Linked DNA regions of Homo sapiens. The protein of the gene in region 4 interacts with the protein of the main gene of each other region in a pairwise test. Each region holds a gene or a part of one and is shown on either strand. Other genes may lie near its edges.

Region 1 (4,209 bases), on a different chromosome or scaffold from region 4:
CCTGTCATGCAAACCTGAATCTGGGGAGTGCTCCTCCCGTGGGGATGCAATCACCCTGATTTGTTCCAGGAAGGCTGTCTATAGGTGCATCAATGCTGCGTTCCTTTGGGAGAAGCCCCAGCTCTGTCTGCAGTGGCGTACCAGGGGGAACAAGGATCCCTTCTCTAAGACCCTTCACAATACCAGAGGCTGCCTGCCTATTGGGTAGAGGTGCAAACTTTCCCCCACTCTGCCCAGCACAGCAATTGTCTCTGCAATAGGAAACTTCCCACCAGTGAAAAGATCTGGGACTCAAGCCCTGCCATTCAGATTCTTTTGTTCCACAGGGTATTCCCTTGATGTGATGTTCTTCCCCTTCCTCTAGGAATGGGACTTCCTGGAAGCCAGACTACAGTGCTCTTCTGGGTCTAGCCACCCAGTGGGCCTACCAGACTCTGGGCTGGTGCTAGGGAATGTCTGCAAGGGATCCAGTGGTGTTACCTGTCTTCAAGACTCCCAGCAGTGAATACCAGCACCATCTCTGACAGAAGTGGGAGGGGAGTGATGCAAACTCTGCAAGATTCCTTGGTTGTAGATAGACTTAGAGTATTGACTTTCTCAAATGCTGGTTATAATTATAGTGAACTTATCACGTGGACAGACGCAGGACTTCTGGTTAGCCAGGGTGTTGTAAGCAGTGGTGATAGCTGAGAATATGCAGCCGTTTTCTCCTTCCTGGGTACAGTGCTATTCTGCCTAGAGGTGAGTTTTTGCCTGTCTCACAGAGTAGGCTGCAGCCTGCCACTTCTTTCAAAAGTTCTGTGGATTCTTTCAGCTTTCCTGTTCAGTTCCTGCATTCGTTCCTGGAGAAAAAAAAATTATAGTGTGAATCTCTACACGCTATTCTGTCCTTCCAGATGGGAGAGGCATGCTAATGCTGCCTCCAATCTGTTGTCTTGGGGGGAAAGAAAGCAATTTGTTTTTGTTTTTTTTTTTAATGGATTTGCTGGGTTTAGTAACCCAGAGGTCATTGGGAACCTTGGCGAAAGTTATTTCAGTGGAGCAGTAGGAAGGAAGCCAGTTGCAGTGTCTTTGTTGAGCAGCAGAGGGGAGGTGAGGAAGTGGAGAGAGCAGCTGTGGTGGCTGAAGGGTGCTAGGACAGAGGGAGCATGATAAAGCCATAAGTAAGATGTGGTAGAAGGGAAAGAGCCAGGACAGAGGGGAGAGAAAGCAGGATCCTCAAGGACCAGAGAGGCAGTGGGTCCCACAGTCAGGTGCGGGGATTCAACAGAAACAGAAGGAGGGACGCTTCTCACTCTGACCCCGGAAAGAAGGAAGAAACTGCGTGCGAGTTCAGACAAGTCCGTTGGCGGGGGCTGGGATGCCTGCATCTTCCTTGTTAAAAAAGGAAGTGCAGGTTCAAAACATTCAGAGACAGAAGGTGGATAGACAAATCTCCACCTTCAGACTGGTAGGCTCCTCCAGAAGCCATCAGACAGGAAGATGTGAAAATCCCCAGCACTCATCCCAGAATCACTAAGTGGCACCTGTCCTGGGCCAAAGTCCCAGGACAGACCTCATTGTTCCTCTGTGGGAATACCTCCCCAGGAGGGCATCCTGGATTTCCCCCTTGCAACCCAGGTCAGAAGTTTCATCGTCAAGGTTGTTTCATCTTTTTTTTCCTGTCTAACAGCTCTGACTACCACCCAACCTTGAGGCACAGTGAAGACATCGGTGGCCACTCCAATAACAGCAGGTAGGTGACTTGTTCAGTCTGAGATGCTGGCAACATATTTCTAATGGAAGAGATCTGGAAACTTCAGCCTCCTCTGAGGCCCCTGAGAACTGGGGTGATGAAGTGTAGAAGCTTAGAGCTAAAGACAACTAAGTCTTCACCTAGACAGTGTTGCACAAAAGAATTTTCTGCAATAATAGAAATGTCCTAGACCTGCCCTGCCCAGTATGGTAGCCACTAGTCACACGTGGCCACGGAGCACTTGAAATGTGACTAGTGTGACTGCGGATCTCAATTTTTATTTCATTTTATTTTATTTTATTTTTTCTTTTTTGAGACAGGCTCTCACTCCAATGCCCAGGCTGGAGTGCTGTGGCATGATCTTGGCTCATTGCAACCTCAACCTACAGGTCTAGGTGATTCTCCCACCTCAGCCTCCCAAGTAGCTGCAGCTACAGGCATGTGCCGCTACACTCAGCTAATTTTTTGGGTTTTGTTTGTTTGTTTGTTTTGTTTTTGTTTTTGTAAAGACAGGGTTTCGTCATGTTGCCCAGGCTGATCTCAAACTCCTGGGCTCAAGCGATCCGCCCACCTCGGCCTCCCAAAGTGCTGGGATTACAGGCATGGGCCACCTTGCCTGGCCTTTATTTTAATTAATTTTAATTTAAATAGCTACACATGGCTAGTAGCTAGCATGCTGAACAGAATAGAATTAGAAGAAGCTCCCGTTTTCCAAAGGCACACAACAAGGCCCAGAAAGAATGACTTCTCCAAGCAGGATTAGAAGCCAGGTTTTTGTTTTGTTTTTGTTTGAGACAGGGTTTTGCTCTGTCGCCCAGGCTGGAATGCAATGGCACAATCTCGGCTCACTGCAACTTCTGCCTCCCGAGTTCAAGCAATTCTTATGCCTCAGCCTCTGGAGTAGCTGGGATTACAGGCGTGCGCTGCCACGCCTGGCTAATTTTTGCATTTTTAATAGAGGCGGGGTTTCACCATGTTGGCCAGGCTGTTCTGTAACTCCTGGCCTCGAGTGATCCACTCACCTCAGCCTCCCAAAGTGCTGGGATTACAGGCATGAGCCACCGCACCAGAAGCCAGTTTTTTAATTCACTCCACCCTGCATATAACCGCAGTGATCTCCATGGAAATGAAATTGACCTAAGGAGCATGAAGAAGGAGGCTGACTGGGAAATGTCAAATCTGGGCTCCCCTCTCTACATCCTTTGTATCTGACTTTCTGGGACACAGGGAGGTACCTAATGGAGCTCAGAAACTTTAGGCTGGGATCCTGCTCCTTATTACAGTGAACAGGAGATAGGATTTGAGAGCAGATTTTTAGAAGTTTTTTAAACTGAAAACCTAGTTCAGCTGTGTCACTCTAGGTATGTTGCTTAACCTCTCAGAGTCTTCATTTCCTCTTCCAGAAAGTGCCTGCTTCGTGAGGTTATCCTGAGGATTAATTGATACAAATTCTGGAAAGCACTTTGCCCAGAAGCTAGAACCTGGTAGACACTCAACATTACAGCTAATATGACAATTAATATCCAGGTCAAAGTAAATTAGATGTCATCAAAGTCAGCCTTGAAAGCAGACCCACTGCCGACTGCTTTCCCTTGACTGGGGATGTAGTGAGAGAGGCAGCATGTTATCAGTGAATAAACTATTCCAGTAATAATGATCACAACAATAAAGGTTAACATTGTACTTTATGTATGTTTTACGTGATTTACAAGCAATCCCTCATTTCATCCTCACCACAACCCCATGAGTTGGATTCTGTATTGGCCCCATTTTACAGATGAGTAAACTGAGACTCAGAAAGGAAAAGTCACTTGCCCAGAATTGCTCAGCTAGCCCTGGTGTCATCTGCCTCTCTCCATATGTAATAAGCCTCTATCTGGTTTTAGCATCAACTGGCCAGGTGGCATTGCATTCTTCCCCAGCTTGGGAAAGAGAGGTGACAAAGACTAAGAAACATTTGCTGAACAGTTGGACTCAAAGATTCTTTCTTTGGGGTAGGCAGGCAATTTAAGTGCGTCTGCCACAGGGATTGAGTCCCCTCTGGGCCCTGGGATGCATGGAGCAAGAGATAGGGTAAGGAATAATGGAGGGGATTGAGGTGTTGTTCACTGGGGTGGGCACTTGTGAGACAGCAGAATTAGTGTTCATGGCTCTGCCTGGATTAATTCATTCATTTGTAATCAATAGCAAATTGATAAAATACATTCTTAGGGTCACTTAACATTGTTTTTAAAAATGCATTTGGACTTTGGTGGAATCTTCCCTTTTACCAAAAGGCTTTCTTTCCAAATTAGAGGGTCTTGGCTCCAAGGGTGGTAAGCTGCTGCAGAGTTGGTGTCCTCAGACCCAATGCCAAGTGTGCGAAACAAGAAAGAATATCAATACCCAGAGATGGACTTGTGGTCAGAGCAGATGGTTGGGGAGTGAGGGGAAAGACAAGAGGCAGGAGTGGGGCCAAGAAGTAGAGGCATCAG
Region 2 (3,180 bases), on a different chromosome or scaffold from region 4:
TCTGTTCCACACTTTGTGTCCAAGCCCTAAGGACCAATAGCAGCGCTACAGTTGGGAATGTTTTTTGCAGCCCCTTCTCCATTTTGTCACTGTTTCCCATGCCTCCTCACAGTTGTCACTGTCATGATGTGGCCCCTTGCTGTGTACCACCGACTGTGGGATCGAGCATATGTGCGGCTGAAGCCAGCTCTGCAGCGGCTAGACTTCAGTGTCCGTGGCTACATGATGTCCAAGCAGAGAGAGAGACAATGTAAGTGTCATGGTGTCATTCTTTCCACTTACGCAATTTGGGGCGAAAAGGAGAAGCCCATAGGTCTGACATACTGGGTGGGTCCTCAAAAGTGGAAGTCGGGGGTAGTTGGTGGGGGTGAGGATTGATAGGTAAAAATGATATTCTGTTCTAGGGAAACCTGTGCAGGCTTGCCAGTTTTTATCATTTGTAATCCTAGGCTCCCGTTTTAAACCTATCTGATAAAAGCTCTTTCAAGTTGAATAAAAGCTAGACAGTGAAGATAAATTCCTAGTATTTGTGGTTTGTTTTTTTTTTTTTTTTTTTTTTGAGACAGGGTCTCATTCTGTTTCCCAGGCTGGAGTGCAGTGGCATGATCATGGCTCACTGCACCCTTGACCTCCCAGGCTCAAGTGATCCTTCTACTCAGCCCCGCCAAACCCTTCAGTAGCTGGGACTACAGGCATGTGTCACCACATCTATCTGATTTTTAAATTTTTTTGTAGAGATGGGGTCTCATGTTGCCCAGGCTGATCCTGAACTCCTGGGCTCAAGCGATCCTCCTGCCTTGGCGTTCCAAAGTGTTGGGATTACAGGTGTGAGCCACCGTGCTGAGCCCAGAGCAGATCCTTTCAACTCCTAAGCCTGGTCTCTTCACTAGTAAAAGCTGCCTCCCAAAGGTGATTAAAAACTGCTGCCTCAGAGGTTGTAAGTGTACTAGCCTGAGATCCATGCAACACAATGATGGTAGTACAAACTTTTCCCTCCCTTGTGTGGTCTTGTCAGGTTTTGTGTTTTATGGAGGCCTGGCCTTCAAAGAGCCCTGCACTTGGTCACCAAGGCCCAAGTCCCCTTGGGGCAGCCAGTTGAATAATACCAGTCCTCAAAAGTCTGATTTAACAAGGTGTGCATCTCCTTTTGCCCTCTCTTTGATCATGTCCACTTAACACCTTGACATTAGGTCTGCCTTTAGCCATCCAGAGAGTTGTTGACAAAGCCTGGTATTTGATCATCTGACCAGAATAGAAATGTGTGCCAGGCCGGGCGCAGTGGCTCACACTTGTAATCCCAGCACTTTTGGAGGCTGAGGTGGGCGGATCACCTTAGGTCAGGAGTTCGAGACCAGCTTGACCAATATGATGAAACCCCGTCTCTACTAAAAATACAAATATTAGCCAGGTGTGATGGTGAGCACCTGTAATCTCAGCTACTCAGGAGGCTGAGACAGGAGTATTGCTTGAATCCAAGAGGCAGAGGTTGCAGTGAGCCGAGATCGCGCCATTGCACTCCAGCCTGGGCAACAAGAACAAAACTCCATCTCAAAAGAAAAAAGAAATATGTAGGGTCTGGTGGAGAGGATGTTGGAAGCTGAGATATTTTCTCCAGTGTTTTCAACTCACCTTGCATTTAGGCTCAGCAGCTCAGCCTTCTGTTATTATTATGTAGGCTTAGAGCCAGATTCAGAGAGGCTCTTTGTTTTGTGTTCTGATTTTATGTCTTTAAAGTCCAAAGGGGATTTTACGCTGGGAGAAGGTATCAAGCAAGACTTTGTGCTCTTCCCACAGTACGCCGCAGAGCTCTCCACCCAGAACGAGCCATGGACAACCACAGTGACAGCGAAGAGGAGCTTGCTGCCTTCTGTCCTCAGGTATCTTGAGTGTGGGAGCTGCTTCACTGTCCAGTTTTCTTTAGCTACCTTTTAACCATCCGACAGCTCACATTTAGGCCATAACCAGGTTTGAGGCCTTAGACTCCCCTTGTTCCCAAGACAAGGAGAGAAGTGAGACTTTGTTCCTAGATCTCAATTTTTTTCTTTATCATATCATTCCTGTAATCAACCTAGGTCTCAATTAGAGCCTGATGCCCAGCACCGCTCTTCCGTATCTCTTTTTACCCTACCATTATGGAAGAACTTCTGGAGCTAGTATGATCATCTTTTAAACAGCCCAGTTCACCCTTGGGTCTGTGCAGTATGTGTATCCTCCTACCACTTTGAAAAATTATCTCTGGATCAATTATTTGCCTTAAAGTAAGTGGGTAATTGACTCCCCCAAGACTGCTTTTCTTCCTGTGCTTAAGAGGTTATGAATGAGTGTTTTCTTTGGGAGAGCAGCCTAAAAGGGGTCAAGATTTTTTTTGTTGTTGTTACTTTCACATGTATTGATTAAAAAAAAAATAAAGGGGAGAGGGAGTTTTCAACGGGAAGTTACCATCTATCCCTGGTTACATTGATTTGATGGCCTTCGGATAACTAATGCTAGCTGATTAGTAAAGCTGTACCTGGTGACTACACCTGGTTCCTGATGGCATTATCTCACATTTGTTGGTCTTTTCCTAAGCTGGACGATTCTACTGTTGCCAGGGAATTGGCCATCACAGACTCTGAGCACTCAGACGCTGAAGTCTCCTGTACAGACAATGGCACATTCAATCTTTCAAGGGGCCAAACACCTCTAACGGAAGGCTCTGAAGGTGAGGGGAGCCTTTGACCTCAGTTGATAATGGCTCTGACTGTTGCCTCTTAGCTTCCCTGAACAGAGGGGATACTGGTGCTTGCCCCTCTCCTGTTTTCTGAGCTATGGATCAGGCGGCAGAGCAGCCTGAGTGCTGTGGCTACAGCCAGGATGGCACTGCTGCCCTTCTTGAAGACTTTAGTCCCTTAGTAGCCTCAGGCACTAGCCTCACAGGGGACATAGAAGAGAGGGGGAATTGTGTAGAGATCACAGCCACCTATAAGTGGAGGGGAAAGGTATACCAGTCCCATGGGTTTATTTCGCCCTGAGAAAGCCAGGGTGGGAAAAATCTGGTCATGTGGGGCTGGGGCACAGGAGGGCCAGGTAGGTGCCATGACTCAGACACTTCTGTATTCCACCAGACCTAGATGGTCACAGTGATCCAGAGGAATCCTTTGCCAGAGACCTTCCAGACTTCCCTTCCATTAATATGGATCC
Region 3 (3,500 bases), on a different chromosome or scaffold from region 4:
GTGAAACTCCATCTCAAAAAAAAAAAAAGGGGGAAGAAAATTCAAGCCAATATATAGTGACAGAGTAGATAAATTATCGCCTGGAAATGGAGGTGTAGAGGGAGGTAAAAAGAAACATTTGAGGGTGATGAATATGTTTACTATCTTGATTATGATAATGGTTTCACAGGTGTATAGATATGTCACAACACAAAACTGTGCACTCCAAACACACAGTTTATTTTATGTCAATTAAACTGAATAAGGTTGTTTAAAAAAGACAAGCAAATACAAAGCTAACTATAAAAAAGTCAGACTAATGCTGGGCACAGTGGCTCACACCTGCAATCCCAATGCTTTGGGAGGCCAAGGCAGGAGGATTCTTTGAAGCCAGGAGTTCGAGACCAGCCTGGACAACAAAGCAAGAGCACATCTCTACAAATAAAAATTTAAAAATTAGCCAGGCATGATGGGACGTACGTGTAGTCCCAGCTACCAGGAGGCTGAGGCAGGAAGATCACTTGAGCCCTGGAGTTCCCGGGTGCACTGAGCCATAATCACACCACTGCACTCCAGCCTGGATGAAACAGTAAGACTCTTGTCTCAAAAATAAATAAATAAATACACATTAAGAATAGATTTCTCTCCAATTCTCACAGAACAATGCTCTTGCTATGCCATAACCTCTTTCTCCATAGCATATCTAAGATTTCATAACCACTTGTGAAAGTTCTATGACATGCTGAACTGGAGGAAGGGAAGAGGAAAAGGGGAAGAGAGAACACATGTAAGAAACTGAGAAATTTCTTTTTTTTTTTTGAGAAAGAGTCTCGCTCTGTCGCCCAGGCTGGAGTGCAGTGGCACGATCTCTGCTCACTGCAAGCGTGGTCCACCTCCCAGATTCACGCCATTCTCCTGCCTCAGCCTCCCAAGTAGCTGGGACTACAGGCGCCCACCACCACGCCTGGCTAATTTTTTGTATTTTTAGTAGAGACAGGGTTTCACCGCGTCAGCCAGGATGGTCTCAATCTCCTGACCTCGTGATCCGCCTGCCTCAGCCTCCAAAAGTGCTGGGATTATAGGCGTAAGCCACCGCGTCCAGCTGAAACTGAGAAATTTCAAAAATGCTTCCATAGGGTAATAAAGCATGTTTACGTGTATACAGCCAAAAGGATACCTAACAGTAAGAAAAAATTAATGTATTCCTGTTACGTAGAGGAGGTTGTATGCACTTTTACCATTACCATTGAATACTTTCCTGGATATTCTAGTTCATTTAACATCAAAATAAGATATAAAATTATCAACACGTGCAATATTTGTGAATATTTATCCAGAAGATCCTACAAAATTAAATATTTTTTGAAAGACAAAGCACAAGTTATCAATGCAGAGTACCAGCCAGGCATGGTGGCTCATGCCTATAATCCCAGCACTCTGAGAGGCTGAGGCTGGAGGATTACTTGAGGCCAGGAGTTCAAGACAAGCCTGGACAACACAGTGAGACCCAATCTCTACAAAAAAATTTAAAAACTAGCCAGGCATAGTGCCACGTGCCTATAGTCCTTGCTACTAGGGAGGCTGAGGCAGGAGGATCATTTGAACCCAGGAGTTTAAGGTTACAGCAAGCTATGATTGTGCGCCACCGCACTCCAGCCTGGATGACAGAGTGAGGCCTCACCTCTTAAAAAAAAAAAAAAAAAGGGCCAGGCGCAGTGGCTCACGCCTGTAATTCCAGCACTTTGGGAGGCCAAGGCAGGTGGATCGCCTGAGGTCAGGAGTTCAAGACCAGCCTGGCCAACATGGTGCAACCCCATCTCTACTAAAAATACAAAATTATCCGGGCATGGTGGCACAAGCCTGTAATCCCAGCTACATGGGAGGCTGAGGCAGGAGAATCGCTTGAACCCGGCAGGCAGAGGCTGTAGTGAGCCAAGATCACACCATTGCACTCCAGCCTGGGCAACAACAGTGAAACTCCGTCTCAAAAAAAAAAAAAAGGAAATGCACACCAAGAATCCCTACAGAAGGTGAAAAGAGCCTACGAGGTCATTATTCACAGCTTTATGCCAACTAATTTGACATTTTAGATAAAATGGGCAAATTCCCAACAAAACACAACTTACTGAAACTGACAGAACTAAAAATCAAACAGAAAACCTACGCTGTTCTAGAATTAATCTCCAAAAGGCCAAGAACTATAAAGTTCTAGAACTGTATTACCAATCTTACACAAATTCTTCCACAGAATAGAAAACCAAACTATCCAATTTGTTTTTAAGGCAGATAGCATTTGGATATCTGTCTCCTCCAAATCTCATGTTGAAATGTGACCCCCAGTGTTGGAGGTGGGGTCTAGTGGCAGCTGTTTGGGTCATGGGGGCTGATCTCTTCTCAATTGTTTGGTGTCCTTCTCACAGTAATGAGTGAGTCCTCGCTCCATTAGTTACCACAAGATCTGATTGGTTTTGTTTATTGTTTGTTTTTGAGACAGAGTCTCACTCTGTCACCCAGGGTGGAGTGCAGTGGCGCCTCCCAGTTTCAAACAATTCTCCTGTCTCAGCCTCCCAGGTAGCTAGGACTACAGGTATGCACCATCACACCCGGCTAATTTTTGTATTTTTAGTAGAGATGGGGTTTCACTATGTTGGCCACGCTGGTCTCCAACTGCTGACCTTAAGTGATCCACCGCACGCGGCCAAGATCTCATTGCTAAAAGGAGCCTGGCACCTCCTCCCCTCTCTCTCTTGCTCCCTCCCCAACACGTGATAAGCTGCTTCCCCTTCGCCTTCTGTCCTGATTGCAAGCTTTCTGAGGCCCTCACCAGAAACAGATGCTGGTGCTAAGCTTCCTGTACAGCCTAAAGAACCACTTTTCTTGATAAATTCCCCAGTCTCAGGTATTCTCAGGTATTCCTTTACAGCAACGCAAACAGCTAACATACACCTCCTTTTTTTTTTTTTGGAAATGGAGTCTCGCTCTGTCGCCAGGCTGGAGTGCAGTCTGTCGCCAGGCTGGAGTGCAGTGGCACGATCTCAGCTCACTGCAACCTCCGCCTCCCAGGTTCAAGCGATTCTCCTGCCTCAGCCTCCTGAGTAGCTGGGACTACAGGCGCCTGCCACCATGCCCAGCTAACTTTTATATTTTTATAGAGACAGGATTTCACCATGTTGGCCAGGATGGTCTTGATCTCTTGACCTTGTGATCCGCCCACGTCAGCCTCCCAAAGTGCTGGGATTACAGGTGTGAGCCACCGTGCCCGGCGACACACCTCCCTTTTCTAGAAGGAAATGATCTCTTGGAGTAAATACTTGATTCTCTTTTATTTTTCAGATTATGACATCTCTCTGCCAGTATCTTTTTCTGGTCAATATATCTCTTTGCCAAATAAGGTAGAAAAAAGTTGTCAGGCCAAGCATCATGGCTCTAACCTATAATCCCAGCACTGGGAGGCTGAGACAGGAGGATCATTTGAGCCCAGGAGTTTGAGACCAGCTTGGGAAACAGGAAGACTTCATCTC
Region 4 (5,053 bases):
TGGGGTGACCATAGACAGGGCCAGTTCACATGTACCACAGGCTAGGCCCTCGCTTGCTTAAGTCTCCATCTTGTAGCTTCCTCAGGAGAGCCCCAGGAAAGCGTGGCCCTTGGTCCGGGGTTAAAATTGGGGAAACTGAGGCCAGAGAGGCAGCCTCCGCAGAGGGGTGGGTGCCGGGGTGTCTGGTGGCATGGTGACGGCTGCCGTGGCGGGCACTGTCTCCCAATAGTGGACATGACGTTCGAGGAGGAGGCACAGCTCCTGCAGTTGAAGGTGAAGTGTCTGAACAACCTGGCGGCCTCGCAGCTGAAGCTCGACCACTACCGCGCAGCCCTGCGCTCCTGCAGCCTTGTGCTGGAGCACCAGCCAGACAACATCAAGGCTCTCTTCCGCAAGGGCAAGGTAGGCCACACCGGGGTGCCAGGCCGGGTCACTCAGCCTGGGGTATACGGGGTGGTCCCCAACCCTGCATTTGAGAAAGGCATAGGTATATAAGCCAGCTGAGCTCTGTGGGGTGCAGGTGGAGAAACTGAGGCCCAGACGGGTGCAGGAGTGTGGCCTGGTCACAACAATTCATTGGCTGAGGCCAGAATTTGATCCTCGAGTCTTGGGTCCCCAACCTTTGGCCCAGTGTTTTTTGTTTGTTTGTTTGTTTGTTTCTTGAGACAGAGTCTCACTCTGTCACCCAGGCTGGAGTGCAGTGGTGTGATCTCAGCTCACCACCGCAACCTCCTCCTCCTGGGTTCAAGCGATTGTCCTGCCTCAACCTCCCAAGTAGCTGGGACTACAGGTGCGAGCCACCACACCCAGTTAATTTTTGTATTTTTAGTAGAGATGTGGTTAGCCATATTGGCCAGGCTGGTCTCGAACTCCTGACCTCAAGTGATCTGCCCGCCTCAGTCTCCCCATGTGCTGAGATTACAGGCCTGAGCCACCGTGCCCGGCTTGGCCCAGTGTTGAAACCTCCTCCCATAGAACCTCCATGGGTCCCAGTTTTCCTCAGAGTAAAGTGGAATCCTAGTCACAGCCCTTGGGGCCTTGAGTTGTCTGGTCTTCCCCCTCCTGCTATCACTTCTCCCACCTCACTTTCTGCTTCTCTCCATCCCACGTGGCATTCTCCCTTTCTGCTGTCTAGCCAGGCTCTCTCCACCTCAGGGCCTTTGCGTAGGCATTGCCGACTGTCTGAGATGTTCCTGACAGGCAGCACGTGGAGGTGACATGCCTCTTGTCCATCTACCTTACTCAAAGGTGGAGATTTGGTCTGTCTTGCTCACTGCCGGATCTCCAGCCTTGCAAACAGGGCCAGGTACATAGTAGGTGCTCAGTAAAAGTCCTGGCAGAGGCCAGGCACAATGGCTCATTCCTGTAATCCCAGCACTTGGGATTACAGGAGGCCAAGGCAGGAGGATCGCATGAGCCCAGACATTTGCGACGAGCCCAGGCAACATAGGGAGACCCCCTTCTCTACCCAAAATATACAAAAATTAGCTGGGTGTGGGGGCGCGGGCCTGTCGTCCCAGTTGCTCAGGAGGCTGAGGATGGCTTGAGCCCCGAAGGTCAAGGCTGCAGTGAGCCTTGATCACACCACTGCACTCCAGCCTTGGCAGCAGAGCAAGACCCTGTGTCAAAAACAAAACACGAGAACAGAAAAAAAAGTTCTGGCAGAACATAGGGGTGAATCTGGCTTGCACAGACTTGACCTTCATTCTCACCCCCTTTTCTGTTCATCCTCACAGCCTCACCCCTAGGTGGGGCTTTCAGGACCTTTTAGCAGTTAACGAAGGAAACTGAGGCACAGATACTGGCTCACCTGCTGTGTTTCTGAAAAGCCTGAGGTGGGGCTCCCTCCAGCTGGGATTTATTAAGGACATACTGTGTGCGGAGTTCTGCAGAGAAATATGAAGAGGGAGAAGATGCAGTTCCTGTTTTTGAAGGCTTTGTTCTCAACCTGGGGGTAGTATCCTCCTGGGGGCAGCAGGAGTGGCTGCTTGTGTAGCTTCATACAAGTTTGGACCTGCTGGTTGAAGGTGATAGAAACCCACTCAAACAGGTTCAAGCAGAAAGGAGGGATCGATAGCTCATGGAACTGCCAAGTTTGGATTAGCTGGCTTCAGGCATAGCTGGATCCAGGCACTCACAATATTGTGGGGATGCTGTTTCTCTGCTCTGACCTTCCCTCCTGGGCCGGCTCCTCTCTCAGGGTGACCATGATGCTCCCCCCTCCCCCCTGGAAAGTTACAGATTTCCATCTTCTACCCCCTCCTTTTTTTTTTTTTTTTGAGACAGAGTCTTGCTCTGTCACCCAGGCTGGAGTGCAGTGGCACGATCTTGGCTCACTGCAACCTCTGCCTCCTGGGTTCAAGCGAGCACATCCAGCCTTTTTTTGTATTTTTAGTATAGACGGGGTTTCACCATGTTGGCCAGGCTGGTCTTGAACTCCTGACCTCAAGTGATCCACCTGCCTTGACCTCCCAAAGTGCTGGGATTATAGGCGTGAGCCACTTCGCCCAGCTCCATCTTCTCCCCTTAGCAACCCATCTCCCATCAGCACCAGCATAGTGCAGGCTGGATCTCATTGACTCATTTGGGTCATGTGCCTGGTCCTGAATCATTCACTATGGCCAAAGCTTTGGAAACATCAGGGCCAGGTGTGGTGCCTCACGCCTGTAATCTCAGCACTTCAGGAGGCCAAGGTAGGAGGATCATTTGAGCCCAGGAATTCAAGACCAGTCTTGGCAGCATAGTGAGACCCCATTGCTACAAAAATTTAAAAAATAATTAAGGGCTGGGCGTGGTGGCTCACGCCTATAATCCCAGCACTTTGGGAGACCGAGGCAGGTGGATTGGTTGAGCCCAGGAGTTCGAAACCATCCTGGGGAACATGGCCCTGTCTCTAAAATAAAATAAATAAATAAGTAGGCCTGGAGCGGTGGCTCATGCCTGTAATACCAGCACTTTGGGAGGCTGAGGCAGGTGGATCACTTGAGGTCAGGAGTTTGAGACCAGCCTGGCCAACATGGTAAAACCCTGTCTCTACTAAAAATACAAAAATTAGCCGGTGGTGGTAGGTGCCTGTAATCCCAGTTACTCGGGAGGCTGAGGCAGGAGAATGGCGTGAACCCGGGAGGCAGAGCTTGCATTGAGCCAAGATCGTGCCACTGCACTCCAGCCTGGGCGAGAGTGAGACTCCATCTCAAAATAATAATAATAACAATAGTAATAATAATTTTATAAATAAATACATAAATAAATAATTCGTTGGACATGGTAGTACACGCCTGTAGTCCCAGCTCCTCGGGAGGCTGAGGCTGGAGGATTGTGTGAGCCTAGGAGTTTGAGGCTGCAGTGAGCTATGATCATGCCATTGCACTCCAGCCTGGGTGACCGATCAAGACCCTGTCTCTAAAGGAAAGAGAAAAAAAAAACAACAACCTCTGGAAGCATCCATTCGGCCTCTCGCCAGTGGAGGTGGTGAGGGAGGAGGCAGCGAGGTGGGTGCCTAGATCTGCAGCTGAGACAGGAAGGAGGAGCATGTTGCGGGGACCAATGCCAAGCTAAGTGTGCACTGATGGAGTTTGAGGGCTAGGAGAGCAGTTTGGGAGTGGCTGGAACCCAGGGATGTTGCCAGAGCTCCATTTGGCACTTGTATGAGTAGCCAGGAGCCTGGCTGTTTTTTTTGTTTGTTTGTTTGTTTTTGAGACGGAGTCTCGCTCTGTCGCCCAGGCTGGACTGCAGTGGCGTGATCTCGGCTCACTGCAAGTGCTGCCTCCTGGGTTCACGCCATTCTCCTGCCTCAGCCTCCCGAGTAGCTGGGACTACAGGCGCCCGCCACCATGCCCGGCTAATTTTTTTGTATTTTTTAGTAGAGACGGAGTTTCACCATGTTAGCCAGGATGGTCTTGACGTCCTGACCTCTTGATCCGCCTGCCTTGACCTCCCAAAGTGCTGGGATTACAGGTGTGAGCCACCGCGCCCAGCCTTTTTTTTTTTTTTTGAGATGGAGTCTCACTCTGTCGCCCAGGCTGGAGTGCAGTGGCACGATCTCGGCTCACTGCAAGCTCCGCCTCCCGGGTTCACGCCATTCTCCTGCCTCAGCCTCCCGAGTAGCTGGGACTATCAGGCGCCCGCCACCTCGCCCAGCTAATTTTTTTTGTATTTTTAGTAGATACAGGGTTTCACCGTCTTAGCCAGGATGGTCTTGATCTCCTGACCTTGTGATCCGCCCGCCTCGGCCTCCCAAAGTGCTGGGATTACAGGCATGAGCCACTGCGCCCGACCCTTTTTTTTTTTTCTTTTTTTAAGACAGGGTTGCACTCTGTCACCCAGACTGGGGTGCAGTGGTGTGATCTCGGCTCACTGCAACTTCTGCCCCCTGGTTCAAGCAATCCTCCCACCTCAGCCTCCTGAGTAGCTAGGACTACAGGTGCATGCCACCACGCCTGGCTAATTTTTGTATTTTTTGGTAGAGACGGGGTTTCTCCATGTTGGCCAGGCTGTTTTTATTTTATTTTATTTTTTGAGATGGAGTCTTGCTCTGTTGCTCAAGCTGGAGTGCAGTGACACCATCTTGGCTCACTGCAACCTCCTGGGCTGGATTTCTTGAAGGACAGGCCCAGGTATGGGTCCAGAGTGATGCCACCCCCTTCCCCTTACAGGTGCTGGCCCAGCAGGGGGAGTACAGTGAGGCCATCCCCATCCTGAGGGCAGCCCTGAAGCTGGAACCTTCCAACAAGGTGAGCAGGACAGGGGTGCCCTGGGACTTGCTCGGCTGGGAAGTCCCTCCTGCGGTCTGCCCCAGGTCTTTCTTGCTGTGGCTCTCTGTTGTGTTCCCACCTGGGCAGTGGCACGGAGTAGGTACCTGAAGGGTCCTGGTCAGCTTGTGAAGACCCTCATGACGGCCACACAGGCAGTCTGGGCTCTCACTCCTCCAGCAGCTGAGGGCACTGCCAGCCTGCTCCATGCCAGTGTCCTTGGCCTTCCTTCCAGAACCTTTTGTCTCCTGGCTACCTTGTGCTCTGCGCCATCAATTGGCTCCCTAGGAGGGATGGGGTCA

The links.
Region 1: the proteins of FKBP8 (region 4) and CXCR2 interact in binary tests that used the Homo sapiens proteins (3 or more experiments, as listed by UniProt).
Region 2: the proteins of FKBP8 (region 4) and RETREG3 interact in binary tests that used the Homo sapiens proteins (3 or more experiments, as listed by UniProt).
Region 3: the proteins of FKBP8 (region 4) and SLC71A2 interact in binary tests that used the Homo sapiens proteins (3 or more experiments, as listed by UniProt).

Annotation. Positions count from the first base shown.
Region 1 is NC_000002.12:218,124,619-218,128,827, forward strand, and holds the start of CXCR2 (C-X-C chemokine receptor type 2), read left to right. Parts: upstream 1-1,409; 5' UTR 1,410-1,735; intron 1,736-4,209. UniProt on the Homo sapiens protein: Receptor for interleukin-8 which is a powerful neutrophil chemotactic factor. Binding of IL-8 to the receptor causes activation of neutrophils. This response is mediated via a G-protein that activates a phosphatidylinositol-calcium second messenger system.
Region 2 is NC_000017.11:42,582,195-42,585,374, reverse strand, and holds part of RETREG3 (reticulophagy regulator 3), read left to right. Parts: intron 1-112; coding exon 113-250; intron 251-1,794; coding exon 1,795-1,877; intron 1,878-2,568; coding exon 2,569-2,701; intron 2,702-3,104; coding exon 3,105-3,180. UniProt on the Homo sapiens protein: Endoplasmic reticulum (ER)-anchored autophagy regulator which exists in an inactive state under basal conditions but is activated following cellular stress.
Region 3 is NC_000009.12:94,377,569-94,381,068, reverse strand, and holds part of SLC71A2 (hippocampus abundant transcript-like protein 1), read right to left. Parts: intron 1-3,500.
Region 4 is NC_000019.10:18,532,950-18,538,002, reverse strand, and holds part of FKBP8 (peptidyl-prolyl cis-trans isomerase FKBP8), read left to right. Parts: intron 1-229; coding exon 230-402; intron 403-4,655; coding exon 4,656-4,733; intron 4,734-5,053. UniProt on the Homo sapiens protein: Constitutively inactive PPiase, which becomes active when bound to calmodulin and calcium. Seems to act as a chaperone for BCL2, targets it to the mitochondria and modulates its phosphorylation state.